Linked DNA regions of Homo sapiens: region 1 is linked to region 2. A link means that fine-mapping ties the variant in region 2 to the expression of a gene that starts in the linked region. Tissue or cell type: whole blood. Region 2 holds a variant in brackets; the other region holds the start of a gene. All regions are shown on one strand. Distances are from middle to middle.

What was found. PIP is the estimated chance that this variant, and not a neighbour inherited with it, causes the effect.
Region 1: CCNG2 starts here. The variant in region 2 is fine-mapped to the expression of CCNG2 in whole blood (INTERVAL, PIP above 0.99).

Annotation. Positions count from the first base shown.
Region 1 is chr4:77,153,559-77,159,801 of GRCh38, forward strand. CCNG2 (cyclin G2) reads left to right here and starts at 3,649. Exons shown (of 8, transcript NM_004354.3): 1 at 3,649-3,948; 2 at 4,975-5,112; 3 at 5,809-5,946. The coding sequence starts at 4,975. It overlaps LOC101928864 (a long non-coding RNA gene), which reads right to left and starts at 4,506. Exons shown (of 2, transcript XR_244659.5): 1 at 1,712-4,506; 2 at 1,196-1,418. RefSeq lists silencers at 796-865, 3,208-3,327, 3,748-3,817, 3,848-3,957.
Region 2 is chr4:77,342,509-77,350,424 of GRCh38, forward strand. It overlaps the pseudogene LOC100421142. Among named protein-coding and RNA genes, the nearest start is that of CCNG2, 190 kb to the left of the region's middle. RefSeq lists an enhancer at 1-977. The variant A/G (reference allele first, on the strand shown) is at 4,517.

The DNA.
Region 1 (6,243 bases), 190 kb before region 2:
CTTTACGTATCCTTATCCTCAGGTTCTTTCCTTTCAGGGCTGCTTTCCACCAGACTTCTTTGATGAGGTTAGGGATGATCCCTTCCTTTCCCTTCATGAAGTCACAACATGGTGCAGCCTAGAAATATATAGCTAGTTGCTTTCACAAATGTTTGTATTCAGTCATCACATATGAAGCAGACACAACTACCTCTGGCTTTTTGTTTTCCTCAGTTTAGAAAGCTGAGGCTCAAGACCATGGGAATTATTCAGGGTATTCAAGGCACCATTTCTAATGAGTAGGAAAGCTGAGACACAAAGCCAGTTTGATCCATGGCCAGTGCTTTTGCCCTACACCTCAGACATACCAGGGTATATGCTGGGGCCTTGTTTTATTTATGTATTTTTGTATTCCTGGTGCCTAGTAGCATGCCTGGCACTCAGTGTGTATTCACTAAATTTCGATTGAATAAAAAGCTAGGATTTATTGTCAAAAACCATATCTTTGAGGAGAAAGATGATATTTGGAAAATTGTAGCAATTTTGATGCCTTATGAAGTTCAGGGAAGTCTAAGTCATTTAGGGAAGCACTGCAACTGTCCCATGAGAGTGCCCTATTTTCAAGGTAGAAGCTTAAGTGTGAGCAGGTTTGCAGCACACTTGTCAGGAGTCAGGGATTCACTGAATGTAGTCAGTGTTTCTGTGTGGGCACTCCCTGCTTATTACCCATTCTGTGAGCACCTTTTAGTTTCAGTCTCACATGTCACTGAGGACAATGGGCTGCACATCAGGCTTTCATGGGGTTATTGGTGACAGTATCACCCAACCCCACTGCACCCCTACCACATGCTGTAGAAAACCAAGTATCTTAAATTGTCTGGAAGTTCTTGGGGGCTGCCAAGTTTCTGATTTCCTTATTTTGTATGTGTGCATGATACAGGAAATTTGCCTTCCAGAAAGCTCAGGAAAGGCTAATGGGTAAAGCCTGATTAGCCTAAGGGGAATAATGTCTTTTTCATAAATAACACTTTCAGCTCCGGCAAGGTAAGCCAATGTGATAAGGACAAATAGAATGAGGAGAATTTTTTTTTAAAAGATATATTAACAAACAAAAAATTCTGCAAAGTAAACAGAGAAAACCTACATAATCCCCCAGCCCATTTCCTAAGAATATCATCATTCTTAAAATGAGGTGTTTAAAAAAGAGGATGCTGTATTAATAATTACTGGATCTGTATTTTTAATGATTGCTTTCCTTTAATCTTAAAGAGATAAGTGGACTAACGTGGATAAAGGGCTCCATCTTGGACAACTTGATCAGTCTTTTCTTCTGTGCTGAGCAGGGCCTGCCAAGAGCAGGAAATTCAACGCCATTTACAAAGCTTTCTTGTCTTACTCTCAGAGAAAGCCATCACTGTTCACATCATTCAAGAGGCTGTCTGTAAAAGGACACATAAAATACCAGTTATGAAATATAGAGTACACATTTAGTATAGCTTCATATCATTTAGTGCTAAGCAGCAAGATGATTATGTCAAATAAAAGTTATCACTTATTTATGTTTAAAAGATCAGATAAGCATTGGATAAAATTATGTAGCCTAAGCAAAGGACAATTTCTAAATCTTTTCCTTTTTGTTTTATATAGTCTGTTATTTTTAAAGTCTTCTACCACATAAATTTGCATTTCCTCTTTCACATCACTTATAAAATAACGTATGTTCCTTTTTTACCTTTGCCTTCTTACTTGAAAAAAACATCCCCAGTCTCCTTCATGCTTTGATCACAAACTCTTCATTTCTCTGATGGTGGATAGTTGGTCGAGCTGCTTTCTGTCTGTGGGCCCTGTCCACTCAGCCTATTGATGCTCTGTACAATGAGCTGTCATCTCTGTAATTTTAATCTTAGCTCTAGTCTCTAAGTTAGTTTCATGCTCCTATTATGTTTATCAGCATAGATTTCCAGCAAGATGATTATGTCAAATAAAAGTTATCACTTAATGTTTAAAAGATAAAACAAGCATTGGATAAAATTATGTAGCCTGTAAATCATTTAAAACTGGTGTGCTAATTTTATCTTATTTTCCAAAACCCTCACCAAGCTCACACCTCTCTGAAATAAGTGTTAGCTTTTTGGGCTGCCTTCCCCCAGTTGCTCTGTGCTCCAAACAGATGCCTGTGTTTAGTCCGAGCTAATATGCAAAGGGACCTAGTTTTAAAATTCCTTAGCTGCTCCGCAAAGAAGAGCGCTGCCAAAGCTATGTTGTGTGCCTTCCCATATTTCACAAGTAACAAAATAATTCACAGAAAACACATAGAAGAACAGAAAGGAGAAATCTCTTCCCAGGGACTATCTGATTATGTAGATTAGAACTCACGAATATGGTATTTTCTAATTTAGGAGGGAGAGAGTAAACAAATAAATGTTCCAGGGCAGTCAACCACATGCCCCATTGATATTCCGTGTGAAAGTGTCTCTGGCCTAAGGCACCTGGTTTGTTTGCTTTTTGTCCCGTCCTGGGAGACGTGTCGCCTATAATAACAACGCTAATTATAATGAACAATAAATGATAATTTATGGGTTACCAAGGACCAAGAAGCTCTGGGAGTCTTCATTAAAACAACAGCACTACAACCTCTGGAGGTACGCCGTAATTATTAGATGTTTACGTACCCTCATCAGCGTGCTAAGTTTTTATTGAAAAGCCCCTCCTTCAGTCCCTCCTGAATTTTTTTAAATTATGGAAAAATTCCAAGACACAGAACTAGAAAGAATACTGTAATGCAGCCTCGAGTACCCATCACCCAGCTTCGACCCTCAACTTTTTGCCTATCTTATTTCACCTCTCTTCTCCATTTTTTTTTCTCTTGGACTGTAAAATTTTAAAGCAAATACCCAAACTTGTAGCATTTATTGAATATTTTAGTAAACGCCCCGACAATGTTATAATAATTTGGTGGGTTATTGCAAAATGGAACGCCAAGACAAAATAAAGAAGGAATGTAGAAAACTCTCCCGTGGCTGAAAAGGCTGTCACAAAGGTTAGCTGTTAGGAGAAGCGCCGCGAGCGTGACATTCCCCCAAGAAAGGCGGAGGCAGCCAGGCGAGAAGGCACAGCCCCGCAGGGCAGGTAACTGAATACCTTCTCCGCTGCACACCCAGGCATGCGCAATCCAGACCCTGGAGTTGCTAAGGCCCCAAGGCAGAGAGAGGCTCAGGCTACGGAGAAAGCCAATCAGAGGGCTCCAAGACTGATAAGTTAGCCAATCCAGATTCGAGGGTGAATCAGGTCCTCAGCATGCCCATCGCCCCACCCGCATCCAATCAGAGAGCCGGCTACTTTGGGCGGACTTTTCAAAACAGCGAAAACAAAACAAATCGGGGACCTTTAAAAGGCGTAATGAGACCAGAAACGATCTCCTTCCGCCCCTCTGTCTTCCCCCGTTCCCCAACGCAGATCAATCGCGGAATAAGCCCGACGCCCAGATTCCGCTCTCCGCCCTAGCGCCAGGCGGGAGGACTGGCTCGGCAAAGCCAAGGAGAGCTAGGGAGGCCGCGAGAGAGGCTCGAGACGGCAGCTTAGGGGCGGGACTCTTTTTTAAAGTCCGTGGAGGAAGTGCAGGATCCCTCCGCGGGGAGTCACGTGCCCCGCCCCCTTGGGGGCGTCGAAACTCTTAACAAAAACAAGGGGCTCGGGGAGGTTTCCGCTGAGGCGGCGGGGGTGCGGCGGTGGGCTGGTCTTCCGCGGCCGGCGTTGCGCCGCGGCGGAGGGTGGGCGCGCGGGGAGCGGGATGGAGCCGGGGCTGTGAGGCCGAGGCGGCGGTGCCTGGGAGGAAGGGTCGGATGCCGGACCGGGGGCACCGCTGAGGCGGTGGGTCCCCGACCTGCGAGACAGGTTTGGAAGCCCCCGCTGCGCCCAGTCCGTGCGGACCGCGAGGCCGCGGGCGGGTGGAGGCGCGTCTCCGGCACGGTGAGTGGACCCGCCCAGGGCCGCCGTGGGTTTCTTTGTTCGTGGTGGGGACTGTGGGCTTTGAGGAGGTTGGTACCATGCGAGTGCCTCGGTGCTGCCTGCTCCTCATCCGCTGGAGCGACCAGGGTGCTGCCCTCAGCCCCAGCCCCGGGGGGAGCTGGCGCCCGCGATGGACAGATAGATGCTCGTGGGGTGGAAGGAGGTTGCGACTAGGTTAAGGGCAGTCTCCGCCTCGGTGCCCCCCGCCCCCGCTCGTGTTGTCACGGGGACTTGCTGGCGTGGTGCTTCTCGAATTGACAGCCCCGGGGCTCTGCAGAGTTGTGGGGCCCCGGCATCAGTGGGTGGACGGGTGTTGTCCCTACGGGCGCGGGGCGGGCGGGCTGGACTGGACTTCTCTCCCCGGACCGTAGCCGGGTGTGCCGCGCCACCCCAGGGCTCCTGGGACGGGGGTATCCGCCTCTCGGGTAAGTCCGGAATCGGCGCTGCAGCAGCGGACGGGAAAAGCTGGGGGCGGGACTCTCCGAGAGGGGCTTCTGCAGCTGGGCGCCCCGGGCGGGCGGGGCTCGGGAGTCTCCTCCCTCCGCTTCTTTGTTCAGTCGCGAGACTCTCCCTCCCCTCCCCCCTATTGTGCAACACCCCATCCCCGGGACCCGCTGCAGTCGCTCGCCACACTGCAGTCCCCTGGGCAGAAGGCCCTCCCTGGCGCGACTTCAGGTGGGGCAGACCGAGGGGACGCCGGCGCCCGCGGACAGTTTCCTGTTTGTGAAACGCCAAGAGGCCAGGGCTGGCCGGTCTTACCCAGCGCTGGCCGGCGGACCTGACCACGGCTCCTCCCCCTGCCACACCTCCCTGGCCGTGGTGGGGATTGCCCTGGGGCTCTGGCGGACGTGACTGGTCCCTTCACCCGCTCCTTGTCGGGGTGTGCTGGGGCGACCCTTGCTGGAGGTACTGGCCTCAGCCCTTTCTCCCGCTTCCCCACCCCTCTTACCCCCAGATTACATTCTCTGTGTGGTGTCTTTACTGCAGATGAAGGATTTGGGGGCAGAGCACTTGGCAGGTCATGAAGGGGTCCAACTTCTCGGGTTGTTGAACGTCTACCTGGAACAAGAAGAGAGATTCCAACCTCGAGAAAAAGGGCTGAGTTTGATTGAGGCTACCCCGGAGGTAAGTTGGCAGAAAAGATAACTTGCTCAAGCAGCTGATGGGGCTTGGAGGAGGTAACCCCCCCGCCCCCGTTGAATCATGACTAAAGCCTGCAAAATTTCTTAAAAGTTGTTCTTTCTGGAGTACCAAGATAAACCTTATTACAGGTTAATGCTTTTGTTTCTTAGCAAGAATGAGAGTGATACTTTAGAGAAGTGGGGTTTTTTGTTGTTGTTTTTAATGTGGCACCCTCCTCGCTGCCCCCCATACTCCAGCCTGCAGCTTCAGGATGGGAGACCCCGGGTGAATTGAGTAGTTCATTTGTGCAAACACCCTCTGCCTGTGAAATACATATTTATAGTAGAATCTTAAATGACTTTAGAAAAGCAAACAAAAGAACCCTTTCTCTCCATTCCAAGGGAATTGAATTATATTTGCTATAACTCTCTGAAATCTTGCAACAGTTCACCTTATATTGAATTGCTGAAGCTCTTTTATGATGCGTATTTTTAAGAAGCAGTGATTTACGTCTTACAGATGATAAAGTGTATAGCTTTAGTTAAGCGATACCACTCTTTCCACCTATATTCTTGAAGATTGAGGGAAAAAAATTAACCTTATTCTTGGGAAAAAATTAACCTTATTCTTTGGACCTGTATGTGTTTTTCATCTGGTTCTAAGAAAATTGTAAACCTTGGTTCTTGGTTTTTATTGCAGAATGATAACACTTTGTGTCCAGGATTGAGAAATGCCAAAGTTGAAGATTTAAGGAGTTTAGCCAACTTTTTTGGATCTTGCACTGAAACTTTTGTCCTGGCTGTCAATATTTTGGACAGGTTCTTGGCTCTTATGAAGGTATTTCATCATTTTTATAAATATGTCTTCCTTTTTCTATGCCCAGTGCCTAGCACACAGGGTTCAAGAAATATTTATCGAATGGGTATAATAACGTCCACTGTACATAAAAATTTATAATCAGAATTGTGATCGTTAGTGCCAGAATAAGACTACAAGATTAATTGTATTGTTGTATCTTAGGTTTTTCTGTTGTGTCTTAGGTTTTACCTCTTAAGTACTTTCTCTTGAATATGTGACAAAAGAGAGACTACTATTTTTTAGGTATTTGCCATATATTTATAGTCCTCAATATAA
Region 2 (7,916 bases):
TCATCCCAGTTGGCTAAGACTTAAACTTTTCCAAAAAAGGTAAATGTGCAATTCATAAGGGAGGGAGGGGGTGGGAGTGGTCCCTCTGCTACAGCACAAGGCATGTTTGGACATGTCTGGGCAAGTTCAGAGCATAACAAGAGTGGGAGGGCTGCTTGCAGGCTAGAAACATAGTACAAGGAGGTGGGGCCTCTGAACCAAGGACAAGGACATCACACAATTAAACCCATTGAAGAAGAATTCACCATCTCTGGCATGGGCCTGCACCCTGACTAAGATACCCTTTCTTTGACAGGACCATGCAGAAAGACATGCAAAGCACACCAGATTGTCTACAGCTTAAGACCAACCTTATAAATCCTTTATCATTAATTATACATTTACAGAAAACATAAACAGTGATCCTTATTATCACTTTTACTGGTATGTGCAGGGAGAGAATCCAAAATCCAGCTGAGTAGTAAGAAATTTTTACCCTTTTGCTGCCAGCATATTAGGCTTCTGGGTTCCCTTCCCCTTAGTTCAACTTTAAGCCAAACATTTTAAGGTTTGGAGAATTAACTTTTCCCAAGTTGAAAGTACACAAAGAAAAGATGCAATTTTAAACCACAAGAGAAGGAAAAACACCATAGAAAGGAGTTCTACTAAGGGTTAAGAGGTAATACCTCTCTTCCTGTTGGGAATGGTGTTTCCCCTATTTCTTTGCCTTCCCTATTTTCTCTTTTCCCTTCTGGCCTACTATAGGAGACATATTGCTTATCTCCAAAATTTTCTTCTGCTTGCGGAACTGCCTATTTTAGCTAAAATGAGGGTTTGACTTTGCAGCAACATAACCTTCCCTCCATGTGAGATCAAATACCTGAGTTAAATTTTGGAAAGCTTCCATGTATCTAACAGGTTCATCAAAAGATCAGCCTTAGTTTCTCTTTACTTGCCTAAGGTCCTGCAATGAGAAGGGAACTTTAAGGAGCGCCAAATAAGGGAGACCCTTAGATGACTTCCCTGAAAGTTACTTTAATTTTGGGAACTATTTTCCCCGAGCCTGCCCGATATGGCCACAAAAGAAAATAAGCCACTTTTTCTTCAGAGTTTCAAGGTTGAAGGAGTCCCAGTGCTTCAACATATACTCCAGGGCATTTGTCAGAGTGGTGAGTATGGGAGCAAGCTCAAAATCTGTTCTATCATTCCAAGATGCTCTTCACCTCTATATTAAATCAAATAAATCAATGGGCGTCTGTTAGCCTAGTACATATGCTTAGCCTTGGCTGCTGTACTCAAGTCATGGATGTGAGGCTTGCTGGGGAGAACACGGAGAACCCCCTTTACCCATGGGGTATTGGGAATGTTGGCCATGTTTGAACTAGCTTATTTTCATGGGGGATCTTGCCATCACGCAAGGCTGGGAAAAGTCCTGAGGCAACTGAGAATTTCTGGCCAGGGCATGCCCAGGTGTGATTCAAAGGTCTCCGGACCGGATGTAGCCTCTGACAACCAATTCTGGGTGTTGGCAGAGAACCTCAACTATCCTGGTGCACAACTCTTCTCTCTCTATCTGCAGCCTCTTACTCTTTCTCTGCATGAAATGTGCAAGATTTTTACAGTCTAGAAGCAGAGTTTTCCCCTTTCCCTCCCGCAGTGAGGTTAGTTGCTACCACTTCTCTGGTAAGCACATTGTGTTTCTCAGCACAAGGCATGTTTGGATATGTCTGGGCAAGTCTCAGCCAATGCACCAAAATGGTACAGTTCCTATGAGTGGAGAACACCAGGTTCTTCATCTTGAGTTGAATTAGAAAAAATGACATGGACACACATGGAGTAGTTTTAAGGTGCAGGGAGTTTAATAGGCAAGAAAGAAGGGGTAAGGAAGAAGCTCCCCTGTACAGAGACAGAGGGAGGAGGCTCCAAAGCTGAGAGACAGAACCCTCAAGAAGTCTTCTATATATGTCACTTCAACTTAAAACTGCAAGTGTGAATATTTGGACTTAAAGAACATTTGGTTTGGGTCAGGTCCCCCTTTTACTTAACTGCCTAGTTACTTGCAGAGAGTCCATTTTTGAGACTTTTTTTAATCCCTCAGTAACCTAATCTATAAAATAGCAGCAAGAGAACATATGAGAAAGTACTTTGAATACAATAAGCTGCTTCTCAAAGGTACACATGCTTTTTATAGAATAACAGAAAATTACCTGGAGCAGTTTTCTGGCTTTCCTCAATGGGTTGGACATTCTGTTGACCCTGTGGTTAAACAATTAGGTACCAACATGAGACAAGACCCTATTACATGCTGGAAGGAAACCACTATAAAAGCCTAAGAACCTGAGCTTTCGTTTCAAAAAGCAAATTCTCCTAAGTCCTCTGTGTAACAGCTCTAGCTTACACTTTGGTCTCAAACCACCTTTCTCATACTACAGTATGTGGTAGTCTACATAATTGACACTCTAATGAAATTAGTGGTAAAAGGCACTAAGTTTCTTATGGTCAAATTTAAACCACACATGCAGACTCCACAAATACCAGAGGCATGCATGAAAGCTCTGAGTGGGTCAGGTAAAACAAAGGGAAGTAAATGTGTGACACATGGTCATGCAGCAATCTTGGTTAATGGCAGTTGAGAGAAAATCAAAGATGCTTCTTCCTTGGCAACCTTATTGAAAATGGGACTGCTTCCTTCCTTCATCACAAGCCTACTCCATATCCTGCTTTGTTTTCTTCATAATACTCACCTGTCTCTATTTGAATGCAAATTGTGGGAGGCCAGGGACTTACTGTTCAGTGCTGTATCCTAGGTGCCCAGGATCATGCTTGCCCAGCACTCTGTAGAGGTTGTGTATTGTTGGGATGTAGCAGTCAGGCAGTCGGGTGTGTTACCACTAAAAGTACCACATTTGTCATTGCTTAAAAAAGGGATTTCAGTGCTTTTGATTACTGACCCGGATTCCCTAGAAAGTTGATCCTGAAACTACTTCTGTGCTTCTGTGTATTGGGGAAAGGGGTAAACGGGACAGCAAGGGTGAGGGGATAAAGTGAGACAGGAAAAGAAGTTAGGTGACTTCAGCTGCTCACAGCTTTACCAGAAAAAAACACAACTGTTTATCGTGGCAGGCAAAATGAAACACTATTAAAACACTTTGTGAAGGGGGGTAGATCAAATCTTCCATTCTAGTAGTATACAGCTAAACTTCTTAGACTTGATGCCTTGATGTATATTAAGGCTACTAGATTAATAGAAGCTTATTTCTGAATTGAAACGATAAAATTGGTAATGACATTCTCAGGTAATCTTGTCTTGACTTTCAACTACACTAACTCTCATTGATTTCCAGTATCCCATGAATTTATGCTAAAAATGATATACTTAAAATGGAAGGGATAAGTTTGAATAGTACTATAAAAATCCAGGTTGACAATGTTATTTCTCTAGAAATACTACAAGTCACAAGTGTAAACCCTACCATCTTACTTATGCTCTCTGTTCTGCTTTTGTGCTTCAACTCTGCTTTCCCTGAGTTTATAAAAAGAGGGAAAGCAGAAGAGCTGCTACCAAATGGGATCATATTCTTTTTGATGTAGGACTTCTCACAGCTTTGGCTCTCGAAGTTATTGAGATGACGTTTGGGGTGTCAGGTGTCTATAAGAATTGACTGCCTGTGAAATGGAGGGGAAGGCAAGATTAGGGAGAAAAGTCAACTGATATGGGCTGGACCAAGTATTCACTAAGCTGGTGGGGAGTTCAAGAGCTAGTATTCCCCGTTTTCCTGAATCAGGCCATGATGGTTGGGCCCAAGAAGGAAGAACATTCTGCAGAGGCTTCAGGAAGAAGTTTTAAAGGTGGGAGTAGGTTACCCAAGTCAGAAGGATGTGAAAAGACTGAGAGGCTAGTATAGATAGAAGCCCTTATTAGATGTGAGTACAGTGGGAAGGCATAGGGTAAATAGTGCCAGGTAAAGTGTGTGTTGTGGGAAGGACTTCACCACCTAGGATACAGCTGCTGGAAGAAGTGAGGTGCTATGGCTATGAGGGAATGGGGGACTATTTACCCACCAACCTCTTAAATGCCTCCTGTTGTCCAACCCCACTGGAAACAAGAGGACAAAGGACCACATGTGATGCAGTTCATAAACAATTGGCACATCTGGGCATAGAGCAGGGCAAAGGAGGATGAAATGTTTATGAAGGAAGCAAGTAGAGAAAAACATCTGGGTTTCATGTTGGAGAGAGAACCAGTGGTGATAGACTAGAAGAGTCCTAAAGGAATATATAGGGTACAAGTCCGGGACGGAAGCAGTTTTTGGGAAGAATGGGTTAAGCTAAAGGGAAAATAGGCCTAGAAGCAGATGAACAGCAGAAAGTGTTCAGGAGCGGGAAGACCTGAGTGTTGGGGAACAGATGCTGAAGGCTGACACAGAGCAAAGATGCAGAGAGTCAGCTTCTATGTCAATGTTAAATACCTTAGAGGGTGGCTTGAGGGCCACAGTAGAGGATGTTTTCTAAGTATGGTTTTCACAACCAACACTAT[A/G]TTCATTTTTTCTTATGCATGAAAAAATACATCAGTTTAAAAAAAGTAGGAGGCTTAGCATGTCTTTGACTTCCCTGTCAGTACGTCTTAACACATACAACTTCTACTGTAACATAGAAGCATTTTTAGGCCTCTTACACTCCTCCAATTCTTATCTTAATGTTGAGGATAAGTGATTAAAGCACAGCAAATTACACAATATGAAGGTATTGCCAGAGTGTAGCAGGATAAGTGCAGACAAAATCCCTCAGATACCGGGTTAAAGAAGGAAGAGGCTTTATTTGGCTGGAAGTATCAGCAGACTTGTGTCTCCAGAACTGAGCTCCTCACCAAGCAGTTCCTGGCCCTTTTTAAGGGCTTACAACTCTAAGGGGTCCACGTGAAAGGGATTGAGCAAGCAAGGGGTACGTGACTTGTTGGGGTGGGGGGGCGGTGAGCAGGATCAATGCTTCTAGGAGAATGTTTCTCTATACTATGTCTGAAATCTATAGATAACGCATGTGGTTAGAGCAGAGGTTAATTTTTAACCCCAGGTCTGGCCAGTGGTGCCAGTCAGTCTTGCCACTGACTTCATCCCTGTTGCTTTTCAGCTTTTACTTCCTCCTCCTCTTGGGAGACAGGAGACAGTAAGAAATGGCTCTTCTCCTCACAGGGACACAGCAGAGAAGATAGCAGCTCATTGGCAGTCTCTGCTGCACAAGAGTGCAGTGGAATTTGCTGGTGTACACCCACAGGTTCAGTCTAGGGCACTTTTAATTTATGTAGTGGCTTTTCTTTAAAAAAAAAAAACCTCGCTAAATGCACAACAAATATGCAGATGGTGACTTCAGCAAGAAATAAAATCACTACTGAACAGAATGACTAATGACAAATTTGAATCTTTAGCTCTTTCAAAGATGCTGGAAAACATTAAGGAACACTAGCTTGCACCTTCTACTAGTCCAGGCAGTTCTTATAGGACCCTGTATGCTTTCTCCTTCCTGGGGTTTTAAGGTTTCCAGATACAGTAACATGTAGTTGATAGGCAGACAACTTCCCCTAGATAACTTATTAGGCCATTAAAAGTAATGACAAAAAACAACAATTACTTTTGCACCAATCTGGTGTTACACTAAGAACAGTTACCCTGATTATTCTCCATGGTTGTTGATAAACACCATTAAACCATTAAATTTATACAGAAAATGCATCTACATATTCCCCAGGTATAAAGAAAGATGGACCAGTAGAAAGAAAAGTACCATTCCAAGCATCTCAGTGGTAGGAAGATGGATATCTGGTATCTCCTCTCCCTTGACCAGTTGAGGGGGCTGTGTTGGGATCCTCCCTGGTCTCTCTGAATAGATAAAACTATATATACTCCATAGTATATATATTCCATAGTAGATGCATAGACTCTAGACAATTGATAACCCCCAGTGGGAACTGTTTCTCCTGAACTCAGGAGGAAGGGCCAACTTTGTTTTTTTTGTTTTTTTTTTTTTAGACACGTGTTTAGGCTAGATAGGTAAGACAAAGAACTCCCTAGATGAGCCAACACTAGGCAGGAAACCAGACCAGATGGTAAAATAACTAGTACCCAGGGTGAGAATACCAGAAGAAATTGTGAAAAATTAGAATAAATCATCTCCCATATTAGAGGAGCTGAAATGGGCAGCACAATTCAGGGGGCTCCAGGGTGCTTTTGTGCTACCTAGTGTACTGTTCTCAGGACACTTTGAAACTTGCAGTATGTTTGGCTCCTTCAGCTTTGCCTAGGCATTTAGTGCAGCTTGCATCCAGATGACTATTTTTTGGGTAAAGGCCTGTGTTTAAAAATCACTGGTGTCCAGGGGTTTCCATTTCTTGGTAATGAAGACCACTGCAGTGTGTTGGGGGTGGGGGTGGCTTTCAGTGTAGATCTGCCAGTCCCTCTTCAGGACACACTGAATCACCTATAACTTAGTGTAAGCCTGAGAGGAGTCTACACTGTGGAAGCCATAAGGAAGTATAAAGGCCTTGCTAGACAGTATGTAGCATCTAGAACAAAGAGTGGTAAAATTCAAGAGGCAGACAAGTGAACCAGACCATAAGTCTCTGGGGATGGCAAGTGGTGGGAAGGTAAACATGTGATAGACAAAGTCTAGTTAGTAAAGTCTATTTTACAAGCTCCTTTATTCTTATGGCTGATTAGAAACTCTCCTGTCATAGAGGTGGGGATTTGTTCCTTCTCCTTTGGATCCCAGTGCTGAACCATCTCGTGAGTTATTCTGCCTGAATTGAGAATCTCATTGTTGAGTGAATGTTGATTGACCTGATCTTTCCTGATGCTTTTTGTATGCATCCTTCAGTCATGTTTCTAGAATATCACCTGGTATTGGATTCCCCTATCTGTGATTCAGCATGGTTGAGCTGGTCTCTACATGATAAAATGCTGCAGAAGCAAGATGTAGGAATGCTATTTAATTTTGAAGCATCCAGATGTCGAGTTACTTTGGCATAAGGAAACCATTCAGATCCTACAGTCTTCAAGAGACTCTCATGCATTTCTAAACTTAAGTATTTCATCAGTTACTTCAGGGATAAGAATTTGCATGGCGTCAGTCTCTAAGGAAGTTCTTAATTGTGACCAGTGTTGTCACTTGTGTTTCACTTGCAACAAGATAATTTTGGACTATGAATGGTTGCCCAACATCTGTCCTTAGTCGAGAGTATTCTGATCAGGGTTCTATGGCACCAGTTATACACTGCTATCTTAGACATATGTGTAGCCACATCAAGATGTGGGTAATTAATATACATATCACTGATTTCTGCAGCAGACTTGAGTGGATTGAACCAGTCCTCAGAAGCTGAGTTGTCTCTTGAATCACAAAAGAGCAATGAAAATACTAATTGCAGGATGGTAAAGACCAAGTCGGTGAGTTGAATCATCAGTGACTGCAATTCTGCAGGACTCAGTTCCATAGCCTGTAGGGAGCCAAGTAACAGTGCCATCAGGTTTACTCATGAATTGGCACAGGAAAATGCTTCCAAAATGAGGGTATGACACTGCATACCATATTTATGTACATAGTCAGTGGTGAAAGCTGTCTCCTCAGATTGTTATATGGGATCAACAATTGCAGGCACATGCCCCTCTGTAGCAGGGGGAGTGGCATGGACAATTTGTAATGATTGGTAAACAGTTCAAGTACAATTGACCCTGCCACTTTCTCTGTAGCACAAATGATCAGCTTCTGAGCTCTTGACTATGTGAGCTTTCCTTGTATCTGCTTTATTGCCTTCCACTCACAATCATGTACTTTAGCTGAAGGACTTTCTGGGGTGGCATACTGTGGTCTTCTACATTGTGTTCAAACCAGGTTGCTTTTCCTTCCCTTTCATCTTCATTTCTCTTAGCAAATTCAGGGCATAACAT